Linked DNA regions of Homo sapiens: all the other regions are reported to be linked to region 1. Evidence: microRNA targets listed by miRTarBase, many of them from high-throughput screens and not tested one by one. Region 1 holds a microRNA gene; each other region holds the end of a gene's coding sequence. Distances are from middle to middle.

Evidence for each region. The annotated mature microRNA hsa-miR-512-3p reads AAGUGCUGUCAUAGCUGAGGUC and lies in region 1 at 2,626-2,647, opposite strand. An mRNA with a match to its seed (bases 2 to 7 or 8) in the 3' UTR can be bound and repressed. Matches are read on the target gene's strand: a 7mer-m8 pairs with bases 2 to 8, a 7mer-A1 pairs with bases 2 to 7 and ends in A, and an 8mer does both.
Region 2: miRTarBase lists PLEKHM1 as a target of hsa-miR-512-3p. Seed matches in the 3' UTR shown: 7mer-m8 at 1,325-1,331 and 7mer-m8 at 1,334-1,340.
Region 3: miRTarBase lists MASTL as a target of hsa-miR-512-3p. Seed matches in the 3' UTR shown: 7mer-m8 at 1,003-1,009.
Region 4: the mRNA of ZNF514 is a reported target of hsa-miR-512-3p. Seed matches in the 3' UTR shown: 7mer-m8 at 2,873-2,879.
Region 5: miRTarBase lists SUGP1 as a target of hsa-miR-512-3p. Seed matches in the 3' UTR shown: 7mer-m8 at 1,217-1,223.

Annotation. Positions count from the first base shown.
Region 1 is chr19:53,667,183-53,671,859 of GRCh38, reverse strand. It overlaps MIR512-2 (microRNA 512-2), which reads right to left and starts at 2,703; the gene lies at 2,606-2,703. The region is part of intron 2 of LOC107985342 (a long non-coding RNA gene); the gene reads right to left. RefSeq lists enhancers at 1,816-2,703, 2,704-3,592, 4,481-4,677.
Region 2 is chr17:45,433,721-45,438,397 of GRCh38, reverse strand. PLEKHM1 (pleckstrin homology and RUN domain containing M1) reads left to right here. Exons shown (of 12, transcript NM_014798.3): 12 at 429-2,498. The coding sequence ends at 540. Among named protein-coding and RNA genes, the nearest start is that of ARHGAP27, 3.2 kb to the right of the region's middle. RefSeq lists an enhancer at 1,906-2,559.
Region 3 is chr10:27,186,049-27,190,725 of GRCh38, forward strand. MASTL (microtubule associated serine/threonine kinase like) reads left to right here. Exons shown (of 12, transcript NM_001172303.3): 12 at 331-1,905. The coding sequence ends at 488. It also overlaps a transcript of ACBD5 not described here. Among named protein-coding and RNA genes, the nearest start is that of MASTL, 33 kb to the left of the region's middle.
Region 4 is chr2:95,145,029-95,149,705 of GRCh38, forward strand. ZNF514 (zinc finger protein 514) reads right to left here. Exons shown (of 5, transcript NM_032788.3): 5 at 1-4,677. The coding sequence ends at 4,254. Among named protein-coding and RNA genes, the nearest start is that of ZNF514, 12 kb to the right of the region's middle.
Region 5 is chr19:19,272,859-19,277,535 of GRCh38, reverse strand. SUGP1 (SURP and G-patch domain containing 1) reads left to right here. Exons shown (of 14, transcript NM_172231.4): 13 at 460-589; 14 at 862-1,503. The coding sequence ends at 888. TM6SF2 (transmembrane 6 superfamily member 2) reads left to right here and starts at 4,235. Exons shown (of 10, transcript NM_001001524.3): 1 at 4,235-4,415. The coding sequence starts at 4,321.

The DNA.
Region 1 (4,677 bases):
CTCCCAGCCAGATCTTGAAAAAAAATAACCTCAAAGAATCCTCAGGCTGCCCAGGGAGTTGCTAGGAAAAGGCAGACACACCAGCATTTACACAAATTCAGTTACATCACTAGTGGTAGGTTTCACATAAAAACCTTTGATTTATGAGAAGGCTATGCACATGTTACACATCCAGTCAGAACCAATCATGCACTCTAATCATACACTTTAATTTCAAATTTTTTTTTTTTTTTGAGACAGAGTTTCACTCTTGTTGCCCAGGCTGGAGTGCAGCGGTGCGATCTCAGCTCACTGCAACCTCTGCACCCCATGTTCAAGCCATTCTCCTCGTCTACTCAGTCTCCTGAGTAGCTGGGACTTCAGGGGCCCGCCACTATGCCAGGCTAATTTTTGTATTTTTAGTGGAGATGGGGTTTCACCATATTGGCCAGGCTGCTCTCGAACTCCTGACCTTGTGATCCGCCCGCCTCAGCCTCCCAAAGTGCTAGAATTACAGGCAGGAGCCACGGCACCCGGCCGTTTTTGGTTTTAAATTTCTCAGCATTACCTGTGAAAGAATCCAAGTGTACATTTCCACAGTCCTGTCTATGAACACAGAAGAAGGAGTGATTGGCAGCAAACTGATGCTTCAATGCCATGATAGGAGCAAGTGGGCTTCAAAACTATCCTAATACCTGTCCTTTTTTTTTTTGAGACAGAGTCTCGCTCTGTCGCCCAGGGTGAAGTGCAGTGGCACGATCTCGGCTCACTACAAGCTCCGCCTCCTGGGTTCATGCCATTCTCCTGCCTCAGCCTCCCCAGCAGCTGGGACTACAGGCGCCTGCCACCACGCCCGGCTAATTTTTTTGTATTTTTTTAGTAGAGACGGGGTTTCACCGTGTTAGCCAGGATGATCCACCCGCCTCAGCCTCCCAAAGTGCTGGGATTACAGGCGTGAGCCACCACGCCCGACCAATATCTGTCTTCTTGATGCAAATCCAAGTTTAGCATCCTCATTTGGGCATTCATTTGTTAATCTATTCTGCAGTCTTCTGATCTACCTCTTATGCTACTCTTCTTTGCAATTTTACTGTAAGGCAAGAAATTCCTAGTCTTCAGTAACCTGGAGTTAAGATACCAGTCCCCATCAGTTACAATCAAGGACTCACCTCAGCACTGAAAATGCCTGGGTCCCACACGTCACAGGCAATGTGCCAGTATGTTCTTATCAGACTCCAGAAAGCACTCCCAGATTGCATGTCACCAAGGAGACAGTGATCACAAGCCCCAGGGAAAACCTGCAAGGTAGCATAGAACCCATGTCCCTCCACAGGCAGTCCTCCTACAGCTCAACAGAAGACAGTGTTGGAATGTGTTGAATTCTGACATTCTGTTCTACCACCTCACGGGGACAGCGCCTGTAAAAGCCTTTGGGAGAGTGTGGCTGGGAAATGGGCACATTACTTCTCAGTGCACATCCAGCAAGTGATCCTCCATGTGTCAAAAAATCTTATGCTTGCTGGGCGCGGTGGCTCACACCTGTAATCCCAGCACTTTGGGAGACTGAGGTGGGAGGATCAACTGAGGTCAGGAGTTTAAGACCAGCCTGGCCAGCATGGTGGCACCCCATCTCCACTAAAAACACAAAACATAAGCCAGGCACGGCTGTAATCTCAGCTACTTGGGCGGCTGATGCAGGAGAATTGCTTGAACCCGGGAGGCAGAGGTTGCAGTGAGCTGAGATCACTGCACTGCACTCCAGGCTGGGCAATAGAGTGGGATCCTGTCTCAAAAAAAAAAAAAGAAAAATAAGGCCGGGCGCGGTGGCTCACGCCTGTAATCCCAGCACTTTGGGAATCCGAGGCGGGCAGATCACAAGGTCGGGAGTTTGAGACCAGCCTGGCCAACATAGTGAAACTCTGTCTCTACTAAAAATGCAGAAAACAGGCTGGGTGCGGTGGCTCACGCCTGTAATCCTAGCACTTTGTGAGGCCGAGACGGGCGGATCACCTGAGGTTGGGAGTTGGAGACCAGTCTGACCAACATGGAGAAACCCCGTCTCTACTAAAAATACAAAATTAGCTGGGCGTGGTGGCGCATGCCAGTAATCCCAGCTACTCCGGAGGCTGAGGCAGGAGAATGGCTTGAACCCGGGAGGCAGAGGTTGCTGTGAGCCGAGATCGTGCCATTGCACTCTAGCCTGGGCAACAAGAGTGAAACTCCATCTCAGAAAATAAAAAGAAAAATAGTGATCTCAGGTGATCCATCCACCTCAGCCTCCCAAAGTGCTGGGATTACAGGCGTGAGCCACCGCGCCCGGCCTCAGCTTGCTTCTTTCATTGTGTTGTGACTTGCCTCGAAATTCTTTCCAGCAAGAGATCCAAGAACCCGCTTTTGGGGTCTGGATTGGTTGCCTCTTCTCTGGCAATGGTGTGACCCAGGCTATCCCTGAATCCAAGCATTATAGCTGCTACGGAACCCAGCCTCACAACCCAGAGACCCTGGTCATTTCCTTAAAGCTGGGCTGAAGTCCAGTTTATGGCGCAGAACAAGCACCACGGTTTAGCTTTTACCTGCAGTGGCTCCTGGAGCCCCCCGCCCCCCCTCCCCCCCATGGTGTTTTTTCGGTGCTCGCCTCAGTCATTGGACCTCAGCTATGACAGCACTTTCATTCTGGCACCAGAAAGTGCCCTCAAGGCTGAGTGCCACAGACTGAGAAGTACCCTCCCTGTATTGTCCAGTACCTGGAAACTGCAGGCACATCCTCTATGCAGAAGATAAGAGATTTAAAACTGACTTCTGAATGTTGCTCAATAGTGAAAGGTAGATTGAGCATTCTCTCCAGTTCTCAGGAACAATGCAGAGCCTTGTAATGCAAATCCTAGGCCTGCCCTGGGGCTCATGCCTGTAATCCCAGCACTTTGGGGATCCCCAGCCTGAATAACACCTTTTAAATTACTTTGTTTTCTTTTTCTTTTTCTCTTTTTTTTTTCTTAGTCTTGCTCTGTTGCCCAGGCTGGAGTGCCATGGCGCGATCATCAGCTCACTGCAGCCTCCGCCTCCTGGGTTCAAGCAATTCTCCTGCCTCAGCCTCCTGAGAAACTGGGATTACAGGCGCCTGCCACCACACCTGGCTAATTTTTGTATTTTTAGTAGAGACAGGGTTTCACCATATTGGCCAGGCTGGTCTCGAACTCCCGACCTCATGATCCGCCCACCTCAGCCTCCCAAAGTGCTGGGATTACAGACGTGAGCCACCGCACACGTCCAGCACCTTTTAAATTACGTGGACAGGCCCGGTGTGGTGGCTCACCTGTAATCCTAGCAGTTTGGGAAGCCAAGGCAGAAGGATTGCTTGAGCACAGGACTTCGAAACCAGCCTGGGAAACATACTTAGCCCCCTTATCTACAAAAAATGCAAAAATTAACTGGGTATGGTGGTACGTACTTATAGTCCCAGCTACTCAGGAGGCGGAGGTGGCTCACTTGAATCTGGAAGGCAGAGGTTGCAGAGAGCCAAGATCTGGCCACTGCCCTCTGGGCACCGGTGTAGTCTCAGCTACTCGGGAGACTGATGCAGAAGAACTGCCTAAACCCAGGAGGTGGAGGTTGCTGTGAGTTCCCACAACTGCACTCCAGGCTGGGCAATAGAGTGAGATCCTGTCTCAAAAAATGAAAAACATTTTTGCTCTACAAGATTACATTTAATTGGCAACTACCTAGCTTTGAACCAGCAAGGGGAAAAGTAACAGAACGGCATGTCTGTCTCACTAACTTCTTGTTTTTTTGAGACAGGTTCTTGCTCTGTCCCCCAGACTGCAGAGCGGCAACACAGCCGTCGGCTCACTGCAGCCTCAACGTCCCTGGCCATACACAACTGCAGCATTTTGGCTAAACCAGCATGGCTTACAGAGAACAAGTAGTTCTTTCTCTCTCTTTTTTAAGACAAGCGTCTTGCTCTGTTGCCCAGACTGGAGTTCGGTGGCGCGATCTCGGCTCACTGCAACCTCCGTCTGCCGGGTTCAAGCAGTTCTCCTGCCTCAGCCTACCGAGTAGCTGGGACTGCAAGCCTGTGCCATCATGCCCAGCTAATTTTTTTGTATTTTTAGTAGAGATGGGGTTTCACCATGCTGGCCAGGCTGGTCTCGAACTCCTGGCCTTGTGATCCGCCCTCCTCGGCCTCCCAAAGTGCTAGGATAATAGGCGTGCGCCACTGCGTCCTGCCACAATAGTTCTTTCAATGGTAAGACTAGTTGAAAACCTGAGTTAGATGTGTATCTCTAATCTTAGTGATATTTAAATGTAAATAAAAATGTTATGTCTGGAACACACTTGGGCTGCTTGGGATATATTCAGATAAATACTATTATACATAATTTATAAATAAATACTATTTATTTACTAATAGGGTATCAGAAAGGTACAATCCCTATGTCTCCAGGTTGACATAGAAATTTTCTACTGGTCCGAAAGTTGCATCTGTACGACTGGCCAGTTGCTTCTGGTTCAACAAGGACCTAACCTGCCAATCACACAGGACAGCTGGGGGCTGACATTCCAAATTGTAATCTTTACTAGGCACAGAGGCTTAGCAGGCCTCTGGTTTAATAACACACGAAAGTAACTGCTTGAAGTAGCAAGGCACTCACTCACAAGGCACCTATAGAGTTGGTACTTATGGTCTGGAAATAGCCACAT
Region 2 (4,677 bases), not on the chromosome of region 1:
GCCACGCCCGGCTAATTTTTGTATTTTTAGTAGAGACAGGGTTTCACTGTGTTAGCCAGGATGGTCTCGATCTCCTGACCTTGTGACCCGCCCACCTCGGCCTCCCAAAGTGCTGGGATTAAAGGCGTGAGCCACTGCGCCTGGCCGTAAATATTTTTTAAATATAGGCAAGAGATCTTTAATGAATCTCAAGCAGCATTTATAAAAAATGCAATAGGACAGAGAATATCAGTGTGCATTGTGTGACGTATGGGTAAGCACTGTTTCAAGACTCTCCTGTTCCAGAACGGAGAGGCACGGTGTGCGTGCATGGGTTACACAGTACATCACAGCCGTATCGTGGGTTCTGGTCAAAAGGGCTGGCCAGCGTGGCCACAGGGCAACCTCCAGCCCAGCCGGCACCAGCAGGCCTACTGCTCTCTCCCCAGGTGTGCCGAGTGCAAGACCGTCTTCCACCAGAGCTGCCAGGCTGTGGTGAAGAAGGGCTGCCCCCGCTGTGCCCGCCGGCGCAAGTACCAGGAACAGAACATTTTCGCCTGATGCCCATCTGCTGACCCCGCTCTGAAAGCCGGGGGTGAGTGTGGCTCAGCCATCCCGGCTGGGTTTGCCATCAGCCCAGGATACTCACCGTGTCACAGCTGTGTCCCCTTGTCAGGAAGACCCTCAGATGTGGCCAGAGCACCGGCCTCCCAGAGAAAGCCCAGGAAGTCCCCGTGGTGTCCCCTGGCCCTCCCCCCACCCCTCTGCTGCAGGAGGCGTGGCCACCACCAGATGCTCCCTGTCTGGGGCAGGCAGGGCCGTTTACTCACCAGGCCCTGGCTCACCAGCGTCCCGGCGCCTCCGTTAGGGCTGCCCAAACACTGTGGAAAGGGGACTTGGGGAGCATTTTCAATTCCACATTCCTGATTAAAAGGTCTAGTTTTTTAAGGTGGGTTTTTCCCATTCATATTTCAACAGAAAGTATTTTTTTATTCTTGACCCTACGTGAGTCACCCATGAAATCCAGACATTCTCACCCCCAGCGGATGCACAGGAGCCACTCAGGCCTGGCTTAGAGGTAGCGGGTGGCTGGTGGGCAGGCCACTGCTGGGACAGGGTCTATGGGCCCACCCAGTGCCTTTCCTTGGCCCTCACTGCCAGTGCCAAACCGCCCCTCAGCAGGGCAGGGCCAGTCCTGGCGACCCCGGTTCCTCTGTGTCCTCTTTACTCCCCACCCCAGTGCGTCTCGCCTGCTGAGCCCACCGCTTTCTCAGCGTCAGAGCCCCTAGCTCTTCTCTAGCCTGGGGCCTTGGCCCCATTAGGAGAAGGAGAAATGACTGGAAACCAGCACTGTCAGCACTTTGAGCCCTCCTCGGTTTATGGAGGGTCGCCGTCTTGCCCACCCCCGATCCCCGTGCGCTCCTCACCCCTCTACAGACAGGGGCGCTGCTGCAGATGCTCCAGGCCCACCTTGGTGGGTGCCCGGGGTCACACTCTCTGCCTGACTGACCCCTGCCAGGGCACAGATAGGCAGGACCCCAGAGAGGGCAGGCAGCCACGCCCTGCACTGTGGAGAAGTGACCTGGTCCTAAGCTGTGCAGGGCGTGCGGGGGAACTGCCCTGTGGATGCAGCCACCACCTCACAAAGCCATGAATTCCCAAAGCATCACTGAACTTGCCCAGCCGGGACACTGGAGACTGAAGAAGTTCCCCGGAGCAGGACTGCCTTTGAAGGGGCCTTGGGGCTGGGGTGGGAGTCTGGAATTGTTTTCAAAGTGATGGTCAGACCCTCCAGGCTTCGGGGAAATGTGGGTTTGCTGGTCTCTCTGTCGCCTTCCCCCACCTCTCCTGGACCTAGCAGGCCCTCAGTCCTAGCTGTCTTACCTGCGCTCAGCTTGGAGTCAGGCCTCAGGTGGAGAGCCGCATGTCACTGTCAGAGATGAGCCCACCCCCACCCTTCCCTGGGGGCGATTAGCTGCTGAGTCACCCACCCAGCCTTGGAGCTGGATGCCTGTGCAGCAGAACAGAGGCAACGGTGGCAGGCAGGTGGAGGCTGCGCACAGCTTCTCCCGGTCATGGCACACACCTGTGCCCAGACGCCAATGCCTCCTAAGCCAGGAGCTGGGTTATGCACCGCCATGGCCCACATTAACGCTCCACCACAAGCCCAGCCTAGTCAGAGCCCTCATTGCCCCATCCCTGAGTGGGCAGGAGCCTGGCCTGGGGAGGGCTTGGGCCTGTGAGGATTCTCCCCGAAGGTGCCCTCGGAGGCAGCAGGTTTGAGGCCCTGGGGGGCCCGTTCCCCAGAAGCTGCCAGTGCTTTCAGATGCATTGACTCTTCCCGCCTCCCCTCCCTCAGAAAGGTAGTGCCCACACTATTTTTAAAATGTTATTTTATGCAATACACTGTTCCTAGTGAGCAGGGCTCTGGCCCTGAGGAGTCTTTGCAATGTATTGAAGGAATTGCTGCCGTGTGAGTTTTGAATGATTTTGCAGTAAAGACCTGATCTTTCTCATCACTGGTCTGGCTTCTGAATTCTAACACTGCCACGGCCAGGGGGGAGACCACCAGCCATCTGTTACCATCTGTCAGGGTCCCCTACCCTCATGTTAGTCCCTGGCACGGGGGAAGGCTTGGGAGGTCCGTGGCAAACACTTGTAGGCAGAGGGCTTGCATGCCAGGAGTGGGCAGGGAGAAGAGAGTAAGAAAACCACCTTGCCAAGCCCAGCAGTCAGGCTCTTCCTGGGGTAGGATCTCAGGGTCTCTGGGGAGGTGTACCCACACTTGTATAACAACTCAAGCTGATCCCACGCCGGTGGCTTCTTTTCCTGTGACTTAAATGTCAAAACACAGACCCTTGACACTGGATCATGTGAAACCTCAGGATACAGGGGACATTTCTCAGAGGAGAAATAAAGGAGAGATGGGGCTCAGGAAAGAAGGGTTATTTAAGTGGATCCCCCGATTCAGGGCTCATGGTTTTAGGGCTCAAAATGACTTTTACTTGGCTGCTGACCTTCCTCAGAAGTTCCAGGAGAAGCCCAGGGGACCCCTCCAAGGGGAGGCCCACACCACTGTCCATTTTAAGAACAGGAGCAGGAAACAGACTTAATTCTCAGGGAAATCAGGTTGCAGTAAAATGGGATGGAAACAGACAACATTCAGGTCTGAGATTTCCTGTCCTTAAAGGCCCCTTTCAGATTACAAGGTGGCACCCTCTGCCAATCTAGGTGCCCCAGCTTCCCCCAAGGGCTTCACCTCCCTCCAGGACAGTAGATGGTAGGCCCGGAGAAGAGAAGAGAAACTGGGAGAGGGAGGCCCAGAGGAGGGCCACAGCACGTGACCTGGTGCTGCCCTGCCGGTGGGTTCAGGCCCTCTCCAGCCTCAGCAAAGCGCCCCTGAGGCCACTTGTTTCCCCTTCTCCCCTCCCTTTTTTTTTTTTTTTTTTTTGGATACAGTCTCACTCCAATGCCCAGGCTGGAGTGCAGTGGCGTGATCTTGGCTCACTGCAACCTCCACTTCCCGGGTTCAAGCAATTCTCCTGCCTCAGCCTCCTGAGTAGCTGAGACTTCCCCTTTTCCTCTTCTCTCTGAAGGAGGACAGGTGGTTTGGAGATTCCAATCCAACCCCCAAGAGCTTATCATATAATGTAAGTAGTCATAATAGCTGATGTACCCCGGCATGGTGGCTCACACCTGTAATCCCAGCATTTTGGGAGGCCGAGGAGGTTGGATCATCTGAGGTCAGAAGTTCAAGACCAGCCTGGCCAACATGGTGAAACCCCGTCTCTACAAAAATACAAAAATTAACTGGGCATGATGGCGGGTGCCTGTAATCCCAGCTACTCAGGAAGCTGAGGCAGGAGAACCACTTGAACCCGGAGGCGGAGGTTGCAGTGAGCCAAGATCGTGCCGCTGCACTTCGGCCTGGGAGACAGAGTGAGACTCTGTCTTAAAAAAAATAGCTGATATATTGTGTGCGCTGGGCATGTGGTAAGCACTGCTTAGTGGACCTCATTTAATCTTCCCAATAATCCAGTGAAGTGGGTGTTACTATCCCATTGACAGGAAAGAAATCTGAGCTGCAGAGATAAGGCAGAACTCCCAAGGCCTACCAGCCGCCAAGCAGCAGAGTGGGGCATCATACCTGCCTGACCCCACGCAAAGACCATCACCACTGCCAGCCACTGCCTGGCTGTGCTGCAGGTGGAGAGGGACCTAAAAGGTAGGGAGGGAGAGAAGATTCCTCCAGCCACGATTTTCTTTTTTTCTTTTTTGGTTGTTGTTTTTTGAGACGGAGTCTTGCTCTGTCGCCCAGGCTGAAGTGCAGTGGCACGATCATGGCTCACGGCAGTCTCCGCCTCCCAGGTTCACACCATTCTCCTGCCTCAGCCTCCGGAGTAGCTGGGACTACAGGCTCCCGCCACCACGCCCGGCTAATGTTTTATATTTTTAGTAGAGACGGGGTTTCACCGTGTTAGCCGGGGTTTCACCGTGTTAGCCAGGGTTTCTCAATCTCCTGACCTCATGATCCGCCCGCCTCGGCCTCCCAAAGTGCTGGGATTATAGGCGTGAGCCACCGTGCCCGGCACCAGCCACTATTTTCTAAGCATGTCGGGCACCAAAGACCAGTGCTGAGTTCTGCTGTGTGCCCACCCTGGAGGGTCCCAAGGTGCCACCAAGGCTCAGACACACAGA
Region 3 (4,677 bases), not on the chromosome of region 1:
ACTGCACTTCAGCCTGGGCAACGGAGCGAGACCTCGTCTCAAAAAAAAAGCTGTGAGAAAGATAGGCTTCTAAGTTAAGGCAAATCATTCATTCTGTCATTAAACAAATACAAACCAGGCACCTGTCATATGCCAAGTGATATTCAAAATGGCCCATGTAGACCTTTGTGAAGTATGTGGCCTAACAGACATTAAACAAATGTCTGTGAAACTGACATAATAAAGTAAGGTAAGTTATATGTGAGACATTCTCTTTTTATAATAATTCCTGTAAAGCAGTACTTACTTAGGTAATGATATCATACTGTTTTGTTTTATATTTTTCCTAAGAGCTAAAACGTCATCCTCTCTTCAGTGATGTGGACTGGGAAAATCTGCAGCATCAGACTATGCCTTTCATCCCCCAGCCAGATGATGAAACAGATACCTCCTATTTTGAAGCCAGGAATACTGCTCAGCACCTGACTGTATCTGGATTTAGTCTGTAGCACAAAAATTTTCCTTTTAGTCTAGCCTTGTGTTATAGAATGAACTTGCATAATTATATACTCCTTAATACTAGATTGATCTAAGGGGGAAAGATCATTATTTAACCTAGTTCAATGTGCTTTTAATGTACGTTACAGCTTTCACAGAGTTAAAAGGCTGAAAGGAATATAGTCAGTAATTTATCTTAACCTCAAAACTGTATATAAATCTTCAAAGCTTTTTTCATTTATTTATTTTGTTTATTGCACTTTATGAAAACTGAAGCATCAATAAAATTAGAGGACACTATTGAGAGTGAGCCACTAGCTTGATTTTCTTTCTCCTCTGATTTCAGTTCACTGTTCAGTTTAGCATTAAAATAATAAAATAATCATACAGTTCCATTTGATTGTAATTTACTTGCATATGATTACCTTCAAAAGCTGTGTTCTTGAGGGCAATCATTTAAGGCCATACTTGTGACCTCAGAAATGCAGCTGGAAGGCCGGGCGCAGTGGCTCACGCATGTAATCCCAGCACTGTGGGAGGCCGAGGCAGGCTGATCTTGAGGTCAGGAGTTCAAGACCATCCTGGCCAACATAATGAAACCCCATCTCTACTGTAAATACACAAATTAGCCGGGCATGTTGGTGGGCGCCTGTAGTCCCAGCTACTCTGGAGGCTGAGGCAGGAGAATCGCTGGAACCCAGGAGGAGGAGGTTGTGGTGAGCCAAGATCGTGCCACTGCACTCCAGCCTGGGCAACAGAACAAGACTCCGTCTCAAAAAAATAAAGGCAGCTGGAAAATTCCTTCACTTAGTAACTCCTTTGGGGAATAAGGAATAAACAAAAAGACTAAGGCTTTCACTTACTTTACTAATGATACGGTTTTGCCACCTTAATTTCTATTGGTGCGTAGTCCACAATATGTATTTGTTTAAAATGGTACTGGAGGACGGGTGCGATGGCTCATGCCTGTAATCCCGGCACTTTGGGAGGCTGAGGCAGGCAAGTCGCTTGAGGCCTGGAGTTTGAGACCAGCCTGGCCAACATGGCAAAACCTGGTCTCTACTAAAAATAGAAAAATTAGCCAGGTATGGTGACGCACACCTGTAGTCCCAGCTACTTGGGAGGCTGAGGCATGAGAATCGCTTGAACCCAGGAGGTGGAGATTGCAGTGAGCTGAGATCACATCACTGCATTTCAGCCTGGGCAACAGAATGAGACTCAGTCTCAAAAAAAAAAAAAATACTACTGGAACAATTAGGTGTGATATAATGTAGCAATTTGAATAGCTTGTTCAATTTTAATAGAAAATGTGATGCTTTACATCTTATTGTCATTTATTTAAAACATGCAACATTATCAGAAACAGATTGGTCCTTAAAAAACAAAACATAATTTTCTTTTGCTTAATAAATATAACTATCACAAGTACATTATCTGTCAACATCATTCTTTTCAACAAAGCGAGACCCCATTTCCGGGGGAAAAAAAACTTGTTCCTTTTGCACATCGGGTTTAGTGTTTTTACTTTCCATTACCATCCCAATCAACAGCCCTGTTGCAATGTAGTTGACAAAATGTACAAATTTAAAATGGTTACAGTGAAAGATACACCATTATAATTAGTGCTATATAACTGAATCCATGGGTTAATGGTTTTACTGAGCTTGTTTTAGTAATAACTACTTAGATTTAATGGTCACTTCTAGTAAAATGTTCAAAATACAGTTGTTCAAAACTTTGAATTACATCTTTCCCTTAAATTAGGCAAAAGCATAGAATTATCTATTATCCTTTTATGGTATTTGCCAGTAGTAGAAAGAAAAAAAGTTTGGGAATCAAACACAAATTGTTGAAATCACTGCTCTGCCACAATAAAAGGCCTCTGGCAGGTTAAACTGAGCTATTGATGACTCACTGTATAGTGGGGATTAATAGTGATTAATTTGGAGAGTTGGAATGAACAGAGTAGATTGAGGAACAAGCCAATTTAGTTGCTACCCAGGATATTAACCTTAACAGGGACTTGAAACATTACTGAATAATCGGGGAAATGTTCTCTGAGCATATTCCCAATGCACAAGACAATGGCCTTGAGTGGAAAGTTACACTGTTTACTAACAGACCTAGCATGTGAAGCTATAGTCACTTGAAATTCAGCCACAGGTAAGGCATGCTGTAATGGTATTTATTGGGAACAGGTGACTTATTATCTAAATTTATACCTGTCAAGATGTAGATTCAGACACTTGCTAGGGAAAAACCTAAGAGGAAAGAACAATGGGAAAAAGGGGATGGTTTTGACAGCTGATGTATATGTGTGCATGCACGTCTTTAAAAAACACCAACGGCCACCAATAGAAATCCACTCATCTTTTGCTATGAAGGAAATCAGAACATATCATCCTAAAATGCCTCTTTGACATAAAAATATTTTTGAGCTAAAGGCAGTTAAGAAGCAGCAAACTGAGGAAAGCTCTCGCCATCCCCCTGCCTTTCTGCCCAAAGGCAGGATATAACTTCTCCTTTGCTGGAGACAATTCTAGAGTCTTATCTACCAGGGACAGCACCAGAGGAATTGGCAAAGAAACCTTATTCAATTAGTTTCCTCCCACATACAGTGTTTGCCTTCCCAAAGGTTCCAGTCCTTGGAAGCCTAAAACCACTTTCCTTTGTCCTGTCATTTCTCTACAAATGTATTGTTCTTTGTTGGCCAGGCTGGTCTCAAACTCCGGACTTCGTGATCCACCCGCCTCAGCCTCCCAAAATGCTGGGATTACAGGCGTGAGCCACCCGGCCAGCTATATACAGTTTGTATTAATAAAAAATAATTTGTGGCTGGGCATAGTGGCTCACGCCTTTATTTCCAGCACTTTGGACAGCCAAGGTGGGATGATTGCTTGAGGCCAGGAGTTAGAGACTACCCTGGCCAACATAGCAAGACCCTGTCTCTATCTAAATTTTTTAAAAACCGTCATTCTCAGCAAACTATCGCAAGGATAAAAAACCAAACACCGCATGTTCTCACTCATAGGTGGGAATTGAACAATGAGAACACATGGACATAGGAAGGGGAACATCACACACTGGGGCCTGTTGTGGGGTGGGGGGGAGGGATAGCATTAGGAGATATACCTAATGTAAATGACGAGTTAATGGGTGCAGCACACCAACATGGCACATGTATACATATGTAACAAACCTGCACGTTGTGCACATGTACCCTAGAACTTAAAGTATAATAAAAATATATATATATATATATAAATAAACTTTTGTTTTCACAACGGCATAATGTTTATTGGATGAATTTAGAAAAAGAGTAAAAAGAAAAAATAAGTTGGTATCTGTTAAAGGAAAATGTTTTATTCTTACATGAAAAATGCAAAATAATAGATGTGACTTGTTTTCCTTTGGAGCTCCAAAATAAAAATATCAGTAAACACTTATCTAAAAAAATAAAATAATAATTGTTTTTTAGGCTGGGCATGGTGGCTTACGCCTGTAATCTCAGCACTTTGGGAGGCTGAGACGAGTGGATCACAGGAGGTCAGGAGTTCGAGACCAACCTGGCCAACATGGTAAAACCCCGTCTCTACTAAAAATATAAAAATTAGCCAGGCATGATGGTGCGCGCCAGTAATCCCAGCTGCTCGGGAGGCTGAAGCTGGAGAATTGCTTGAACCTGGGAGGTGGAGGTTACAGTGAGCCAAAATGGCGCCATTGCACTCCAGCCTGGGTGACAGAATGAGACTCTGCCTCAAAAAAAATTATTTAAAAATGTTTTGTCCCACCCCCATTAAATGTTAAACAAATCCAGAAATTATGTTTGAAGAATGTCCTGTTTATCTTGGCCCACCTATGTTAGAATTAAGTAAGATGAAGTACATAGCAAACATAAAAGGTGTTTAATAAAATGATAATTATTTGAACCCTAAGTACCCTACTGCCTCCTGGAATATGTACTTTAATTTTGGGTTCGGGAAGTGGTAACTATATAAAGCCTTACTATTATGCTCCAAAACATCTTGAAGGACATTCGGGTCTAATTCCTCTATTTGCTACAAAGAACTGTCTTATTTTTAGCCATTTATAAAAATGCTGAGAGTCCAGAATATAGTACAAATATATTTACTGTTTACACCAGGTCTTTCAATTAATACCAAGCCAACCATGGATGAGTCATTCTTTTAACTGTGTGGA
Region 4 (4,677 bases), not on the chromosome of region 1:
GTAGTCTTCTAGAAAGAAGGCTTTTCATATAGTACAAAAACATGCAGTCGGAAGCACTGAGAAAACTGGGCAACATAAGAGAAGCATGAGATGTGACATGAAGCAGCTGATAGTCTATGTAAGTCAAAAATAAAATTCTAAGCACACAACCAACTGAATCGACCCTTCCACTTGGCCAAGAGCATTCTAAAGTAAACCTGAAACACTAGCTCAGGCCATGATGGGAATGGGTGGTCAGACATACCTCATTATACCTTCCTCTCTTTGGAATTCAGGCACAGTGGACCAGCATTAACATTAAAACAGAGACCTTAAGACTGACAAAAACAGGCTCTTTGTAGCAATAAGATAACATGACAGATAACAGGCCCTGAGAGAAATCTAAGTATTTTATCCTAAAATAAATTTCTCTTAAGTCTGATAAGAAACATTTACAATCTATTCTCTCTGAAGCCTGCTACCTTCTGGCTTCATCTCACAGTAAGAACCTTGGTCTCCACAACACCTTATCTTAACCCAGACATTCCCTTCTATTGATTCCAGGTCTTTGGATAAACCCACTGCCAATCAGAAAATCTTTGAATCCACCTATAACCCAGAAGGCCCTCCCTCTGTCCCTGTCCCTTCCCCACCAGCTTCAAGTTGTCCTGCCTTTCTCCATCGAACCAATGTAAATCTTACATGTATTGATGTCTTACATTCCCCTAAAATGTAAAAATGCATGAAACCAAGCTGTAGCCTGACAGCACAATTGTCTCTTCCTCTCACGTACCTTTGCCATGTTAACCATACTCGTCAGTTTGAACCCAGTGTCCTGCCCTCCAAAAATCCTTTGCACTTCCTACAAGATAAATCCTCACTCCCGTGTTTGGTAATGTCCTCTTTAGGCTGCCCCAACCTGCTGCTGCTCCTGACAAGAGCCACCTTGGGCACATGTTCTCAGGATCTCCTGGGGCTGTGTCAGACTTGTTTCTTATCAGACTTAAATCTATTTTGGCGTAAAACACTTTGATTTCTCTCAGGACTTACTGTCATGTTGTTATTGCTACAAAGAGTCTGTTTTTGTTAGTCTTAAGGTCTCTGTTTTAAGGCAAATGCTGGTCAACTGTGCCTACAGGTCACTCATATTTATCTCAGAATAAATCTCTTAAAATATTTTACCATTTGACTTTTTCCATTGTCATCTGGTTCAGGAAACAAGAAAGTGGTAAAGTGATAAAAAATTATTTAAATAGATCAAGACAGTGATACGATTTACCACAAGTCTAGATATTGTCCATTTTTAAAAACTTACACAAACAAATATGTTTATGATTACAAATGGTAAGATATGACTTCATATCAGTTTTCAAGAGAACACCTCTCCAAGGAAGGGAAATTTACACAGGTTTCTGACTGATTATGTAGGCTTTAGGTAAGTAGAGAAGGTGCCCCCGGCTGATAGAACAGCTAAGGTAAAGGTTTGCAGGCTGAGATGTGGAAAGGCATGTCTGAGGGATGACAAGAGAGCATTTGTGTGCAATGGAGGCTTCTGTCAGGAGCAGCAGGAGGTTGGAGCAGCCTAAAGAGGGCATTATATACCACACACGGGGGGTGAGGATTTATCTTGTAGGCCGTGCAAAGGATTTTTGGAGGGCAGGACACTGGGTTCAAACTGGTAAGTATGGTTAATATGGCAAGGATACATGAGAAGAGGAGACAGATTTTGGACGAAGACCAGTTACAAAATTGTGACAGATGTCTAGGTATAAAGTGATCTGGGTAGGTACAGAAAAGGGCACTGGGAAAAAAGGGAGAGACGGAGCAAGAAAATATTTGCTATTTCTGCTCCTGTAAACCTTGGCTGTCCAGGAATAAATTTCTGTGTGATCTTGACCTCAGCTGTCCAAGTACTTCCAGATCCAGATGCCTCCTGTGCATCCTACCTGCCCTGGCCAACCTTGTGGACTCTTAGACCCAGCCTGTCTGCATGGGCCCACTTTGAGCTGGTTCCCTGAATTCTGGGCTCAACTTCCTCATCTGGACTTTAAATGCTTAAAGTATTTTCCTCAGTATAAGCTAATCCTTATTAGGCAAGTATCCTTTGGTCTACGCCAGCTCCTGGTCTAGGCTTCTCCACCTGAGTTACAGAGCCAACATGGTAGGAACTTTAAAGCAGAGCCTGACAAGGTTCTGAGACCCAGTAAATGTAGGGGTAACTGTTACAGAAAATAAAAAGTGATACCAAAAATGCATAGATGGCTTGAAGTAACAAACAAAACAGGAATACTTGTTTAGCAATGGTTGGTATATGTGTAAATTTGATTTTGAAAAATGATTTTATTGAGGTATATTTACCATAAAATCTGCCCATATAAAGTGAACAATTCAATGATTTTTAGTGAAGTTACCAAATCGTTCAACCATCACCACCATCTAGTTTTAGAACATTTTCGTCACCCTAAAAAGATTCCTTGTAACATTTGCAGTTACTTTGTTTCTGAAGATCTGCCATTTCTGGACATTTCCTAAAATGGTACTAGAAAATACCTGGTCTCTGGCATCTGCCTTCTTTCACTTAGAATCACGTTTTTGAGATCTGGATTGTGCATAATACCCATATTTTAGTTGTTTTTTTTTTTTTTTTCTGAGACGGAGTCTCACTCTGTCTCCCAGGCTGGAGTGCAGTGGCGTGATCTCGGCTGACTGCAAGCTCTGCCTCCCCGATTCACGCCATTCTCCTGTCTCAGCCTTCCAAGTAGCTGGGACTACAGGCGCCCGCCACCATGCCTGGCTAATTTTTTTGTATTTTTAGGAGAGACAGGGTTTCACTGTGTTAGCCAGGATGGTCTCGAACTCCTGACCTCGTGATCTGTCCGCCTCGGCCTCCCAAAGTGCTGAGGTTACAGGCGTGAGCCACCGCGCCCAGCCTATTTTAGTAATTTTAATGTTTAAACAAGGTTTCATTTCATTTCAAAAATTCCAAATCTATTAGCATAAAGATGTAACAAAAATTGCTTTTTGCTCAATCCTAGACCACTCCATTGCCTCACAAAGAAAGGTAACATGTGCTACAGAGAAAGAAGTGCATAGAGGTGTTGTACTGCAAAGATCCAGTCTATTAATCTCCATACTACAGCTGTGAACCACAGGAAAGAGGCCCAGCCCAGTTAGGACTATAGGCCAAGGCATGTCACTTTCTGAACATCAGTTTTATTAGCTCTAAAATACGACTGGGCTAGATCATGGGTAGCTGTCTACCTTTCTCAGCCTCCATCCTCTGCACCCATGCATGACACCCTGCCCCGTCAGTAACAGCATGAGGAGGCAATGCACAAGTGTCGTTATACAAATGGCCCCACCAGGCAGAAAATCACCAGACAAGGTGATTTCTCAGCTTCTTTTCAGCTCTAGTTTTATACATCTCAAGTTGGAAAGGAACTTTCCTCACATTCATCATGTTCCCAAGGTTTCTCTTTGAGATGAATACTGAAGCTTGAACTCTACTAATGGGTTTTCCCAGTTTCACTAAATTTGAAGAGTTGCTCTAGCACAAATTCTCTAATGTACAAATTCTCTAACGTGTTTTGGTGGAACATCCACCAAAGCCCTTCCCACATTCATCACGTCACCAGAGTTTCCAGCTAGTAGGGAGAGTTCTAAGGGGTTTATAAAGCAATGAGGTTTGGCTGAAGGCTCTCCCACATTACCCACATTCACAGGTTTTTCTCAGGTATGAATTTTCTGATGCTTAATAAGGGATGAGCCCTGACTGAAGGCCTTCCTCTATTTCCTGCTTTCATAGGGCCTCTCTCTAGTATGTGTTCTTGATGCTTAGTAAAGGAAGAGATACAACTGAAGATTTTTCCATACTTACCACACTTGTAGGATTTCTCTCCAGTACAAGTTATCTGATTTTCTTAAAGAATCAGTATGTAACTGAAGGCTTGCCACACTCACTGCATTGATAAGGCTCCTCCCCAGTGTCGGCTGTCTGATGCTGAATAATATGCATCCTCTGATCAAAGCGTTCCCACATTCATTACATTCACGTGGTTTCTCACTAGTATGGATTCTCCCATGTTTGGTAAGAGAGGGGAAGCCCACCCCCTCTTGACATTGACAGGGATTCTCTTTAGTAATTATTGCCTGATGTGGAACAAGATGTGGTCTTCCCACATACATTACACCTTTAGGATCTCTCTCTGATATGAATTCTTTAAGTTCCAGTGATGTCTGCACTCCAGCTGAAAGCCCTTCTATATTCACTGAATTTATAGGGTTTTTTTTCCAGCATGACTTCTCTGATGTTTAATAAGGGATGCAGTATGAGCAAAGGCCCTTCCACACTCATTACATTTGTAGGGTTTCTCTCCAGTGTGAAATCTGTAATGTTGAGTGAGAGATGAACTCTGGCTGAAGGCTCTCCCACATTTATTACATTTGTAAGGTTTCTCTCCAGTATGAAATCTGTAATGCACAATGAGTGATGAGCTCTGGCTGAAGGTTCTCCCACATTCCCGGCATTCATAGGGCTTTTCTCCAGTATGAGTCCTCTGATGCTTAATAAGGGATGAAGTGTGACCAAAGGCTCGTCCACATTCATTACATTTGTAGGGTTTCTCTCCAGTGTGAAATCTATAGTGCAGAACAAGAGACGAACTCTGGCTGAAGGCTCTCCCACATTCACTGCATTCA
Region 5 (4,677 bases), 34 Mb from region 1:
CCTCCTTCCGTCCCCTCATGAGTATCTCCAGGCCAGATGGGGTGGGTGAGGGTACAGATGGGTCAGGCCTTGTCTGCCTTGTGAAGGGCCTTATTTGAATTCCCCATGAGTGCGAAACCACTCCCAGAGATGGGCAGGAGCTCTCCCAGGTGTGACCCTGGCCCCGAGTGCCCCCTTCAAGGCTGTCCTTGAGTAACCATCCTGCCATCCCAAGAGCTGCGACAACTTGCACTGTGGGCTCCTCCTTCCTGTGTGGGACCCTGGGGCCTAGGCCCCCCCCCCCCGCCCGCCCCGGGGGTCTCCCCTCCTTGACCATTCAGGTTCAAGCTTCTCTCTGTGCAGATATGTCCCAGCCCAGCCCTGCACCCGCGGGAGGTGCTGTTGAGAGCCCAGCTGTGCCCGGCCCCCCGGCCAGAGTTCTGGCCCCAGGTCCCTGCTCACATCCTCTTCTCCCTGTAGGGGCACCACCACAGTGGACGGCGCTGGCTTCGGCATTGACCGGCCGGCGGAGCTCTCCAAGGAGGACGACGAGTATGAGGCGTTCCGCAAGAGGATGATGCTGGCCTACCGCTTCCGGCCCAACCCCCTGGTACGCATGTCCTCCTGGGCTGCCTTTGCTCAGTCGACAGGAGAGGGTGGTGGTAGGAACAGAAGGCTCCCTTCCTTCCTCAGTCCAGCCAGGCTGGGTCTCACCAGCGAGCCCCCTACCACCCACCTGCATTCAAGCCCCCACCCGTCCCCCAAGCCTGCCCTGCCACCTCAAGGGTGCGGGCTCAGCTGCCTCCGGAAGGTTCCAGACAGGAGGAACTGCTGTCTTTAGTGCTAATCCCCTCCTCCTGTTATCTGTTTTGCCTTCCACAGAACAATCCCAGACGGCCTTACTACTGAGTGTTCTGGAAATACATACTTTCTGAATGACCAACCGTCCCTGGACTGTGGAATGTTCCGGCCTGCATTTCTGCCCACCCCTTCCGTTGTCACGAGTGCCGTGCCGTGTAATAAAGTCCCAGTGCTCATCCACCACAGATGCCTGGTCCTGTTGCAGGAAGCCCCTCCTGTTAGCAGCGGGATGCAAGATGCTGTCTCGGGGCTCTCCTTATTGGCCTGTGGAGTCTCCATCCCCGCTCAGCCTGGGTTGCACTGGAGGGGAGGAAGAAAGTTGTTTTCAGCATAGTAAAGCTGGAAGGCCAGGTGCAGTGTCTCACCCCTGTCATCCCAGCACTTTGAGAGGCCAAGGCGGGCGGATCACTGGAGGTCAGGAGTTTAAGACCAGCCTGGCCAACATGGTGAAATCCTGTCTCTACTAAAAATATAAAATTAGCTGGGCATGGTGGTGCACACCTGTCGTCTCAGCTACTCGGGAGGCAGAGGCAGGAGAATGGCTTGAACCTGGGAAGCGGTTGCAGTGAGCCAAGATTGCGCCTTTGCACTCCAGCCTGGGCAAGAGAGCAAGACTCTGTCTCAAATAATAATAATAATAATAAAGCTGGAGACTTGGCCACACCTGGGCTAAAGGAATGTCAGGAACCTCCGAGCCTAGCACTGTGCTGCAGAGGGAGGTTGGGGAGGGGTCTCCAGGCAGGGCCCCACCTTCCCTCAGACCTGTGGGGGCAGGTGGCTTCTGGGCACACCCATGTGCTCTCCTGGCAGGTGGTGCTGGCACGGCCCAGCACACAGGTGTTGGCTGTGGCCCTTCAGGTCCCACCAGTGTGGTAGGCACACGAGTCCCTGGGGCTTGTGTCGTTAGGGGACAGCCGCATGGATGCATGGATGTGCCATGCCAACATGTCAGGCAGCTCCTAGAAGGAAGGGCCTCAGAGCCGGAGGTTTTGAGGCAGGAGGGTAGCCCAGGCCACAGTGTGTGCCAAGACCCCCACATCTGCCCCAGGGCCAGAGCCCCACATTTGTGCCTAAGTCACCCTGGGGATCTTGTTAAGCTGCAGCTGCCGAGTCAGCTGGTTGGGCAGGGCCCTGGGAATTTGCATTTCCATCTGCCCCCACCCCCTCCACACACACCCAGTGGGTGCTGCCCAGCCCCTGCAGGCACCAGGGGCTCCCTATTCACATGCTTGGCATGGAGTCGGGCTCCTGGGCCAGCTTGTGTTCACACAGCCATTCAGCAAACACTAGGTGCCAAGTGTGGGGACCAGGTGGACAAGATCTACTCCAGTCAGCCAGGCTGCTGGGGATGAGGTCTGAGGCTGCTACTGAGAGGAACCAGGGAGCCGTGGTGGGGCGGTCTGCAGAGTGTCTCAGTGGGGTCTGAGACCAGGGAGGTGCCAGATGCAGTGGCAGAGCCAAGGCTGGGGTGATATACCACCCTTTGTTCTTTCCTGACGCTGTGGCTGAGGCAGAGCAAAGAGTAACATTGGTGGGCTTGGCCTGGGTGCCCATGAATGAGGGCTGCCCAGAAGGCAGTGGGCCAGGACCCTGAGCACAGCGGGGTAGTTCTCTGCAGCCAGTGGTTCAGGGAATCCTGGCACTGGGTCCCAGGCATTCAGCCATCCAAGTCACTTCTCAGTTCTCAGCAACCTGGAGGCTCACCAGGCTCAGGGCATGGACTTTACCCCTTGCCAGGGGACGAGGCCTCCAAGTGCTGTGTGCGTGTGCAGGTGCATCCTGTACACGGGACAAGGCCAAGCCCCTAGGCTGAGCTGGGCACAGGCACCCTGGCCTTGTGTGGAGAAGGTGGGGTGGGGGTGGCAGGCAGGGCTGCCTGGAGGAGGGGATGCTGGGGCCCGCTTACAAGAAGGCTCATTTTACAGACAGAAAGCAGGCCTGGGGGGTGTTGACCCTGCTAGAGTTGGGGAAAGTCCAGGGGAACCTGAACTTCACCCATGGGCAGTGGACACCTGGGGAAGGAGGCTGAGTCAGACCTGCGGCCAGAAGACCCTCTTGTGGCCCAGTTCAGGAAGACCTGTGACCCAGTTGGCATCAAGCTAAGGGGCTGCGTGCAGAATGGGGCCTGAGGTAGGGGCAGTGGTTAGAATTTGTGCCAGCTGCAGACTGGGGTCCCGCAGGGCAGGCGTCAGGTGGGCATGGTTCACCTTGCTGTCTGCAGCATCCACAAGTACTCCACATGGGCCAGAGTCTGGTTGGAGGGGGTGACAAAGACAGATGGTCTCCTTATTCTCCCCCCCAATACTGTGGCCCCCTCCCAGCTGTTCAAAACCTCCCACAGCCTCTCACAGCTGTCTCGCTTCTCATCACACCCCAGCAGAACCGACCTCCTTTCCACTGCTCAGTTCCAAGCCTGAGCCACTTTCCTCCCTGCCAGGAACACCGTTCCCAAACTCTTCACCAAACTGGCTCCATCCCGATATTCTAACTTCAGCCCCCACCCGCTAGGACCCCTTCTACCCTCTCCCCGAAATGAAGAACCCTAAACCCGGGACTAGCCTGCAAAGGGACAGCCCCGGAGTCAAAGCCTCACACTTAAAGACCCCTCGCAGTGGCTCACGCCTGTAATCCCAGCTCCTCGGGAGGCTGATGTGGGAGGATCTGTTGAGCCCAGGAGTTTGAAACCAGTCTGGGCAAAAAAGTGAGACCTCTGTCTTTACAAAAAATAACTAGCTGCGCGTGGTGGTGCATACCTGTAGTCCCAACTACTTGGGAGGCTGAGGTAGGAGGATCTCTTGAGGCTGGGAGTTCAAGGAGGAGGGCCACTGCACTCCAGTCTGGGCCACAGAGTGAGACCTCTCAAAAAACAAACAAAAAAACTTCACACCTGCCTGGAAACACGTTTACATTTGTGGCCACCTTATGAAAACTCAAATCTAAGCCCACTGAAAGGCATTTTGCACCCAAGAGCTGGAGGTTGCTCCATCCGTGCGCACAGGGAATGCCGACTTGATCTTTGGGTGGGGATGGGAAACTCTGGGGAATGCAGAGGTTTAGAAGCGCAGAGTCCAGGAGAAAATTTCCTTAGAACGAAGTTGTGGAGGCAGGGGAAAGAGGGGGCACGCCAGGACCTCCAGGGCGCACCCCTTGGCCTAAGAGCAGAAGCATCCCGAGGTGTTGTGTCCCAGCCTTTGACAGTGAGGGAAACTGAGGCTGAGTAGCGGGACGGCCATTGGAGACGAGGGTGTCGATGGTGAGGGGCGAAGGGGCGGGGCAGCTGCCAGGGGGAGGGCCGGGGAGGGGCCTTGGAGGCTCCCTGGGAACACGCAGGGCGGTCACGGCGGCCTGCCCAGGGCGCAGCGGGGTCGACCTTTGTGCGGGGCGGGTCCCTGGCAGCCTCGGCCCGGACTCGCCGCCAACGAGGAGCCGAGCGCCCTGGAGAACGCGTCGGGGCTGAGCCGGGGTCCAGCAGCCGCCGCTATGGACATCCCGCCGCTGGCCGGCAAGATCGCGGCGCTGTCGCTGAGCGCCCTCCCGGTGTCCTACGCGCTCAACCACGTCTCGGCGCTCTCGCAGTGCGTGCGGAGAGGGGCCAGGGCGGCCTTGGGGACAGTGGGGGCGGGCGGGGGCGGGGAGGACTGGAGGTGGGCTGGAGGGAGGATGCGCGGTCCGCGGACCTGGCTTCTGCGAGCCCTGCGCCCCAGCTCAGCTCCGACCCGGCAGGATTGGGGTGGGCCAGAAGAACACCCCCCTCTAACCGGAAGTCCCCTTCCCGCCGGGCTGGAGGCTGGGATGCGGCCGCTCCTGGGATGTTTGTGGCCTGGGAAGAAGGAATGA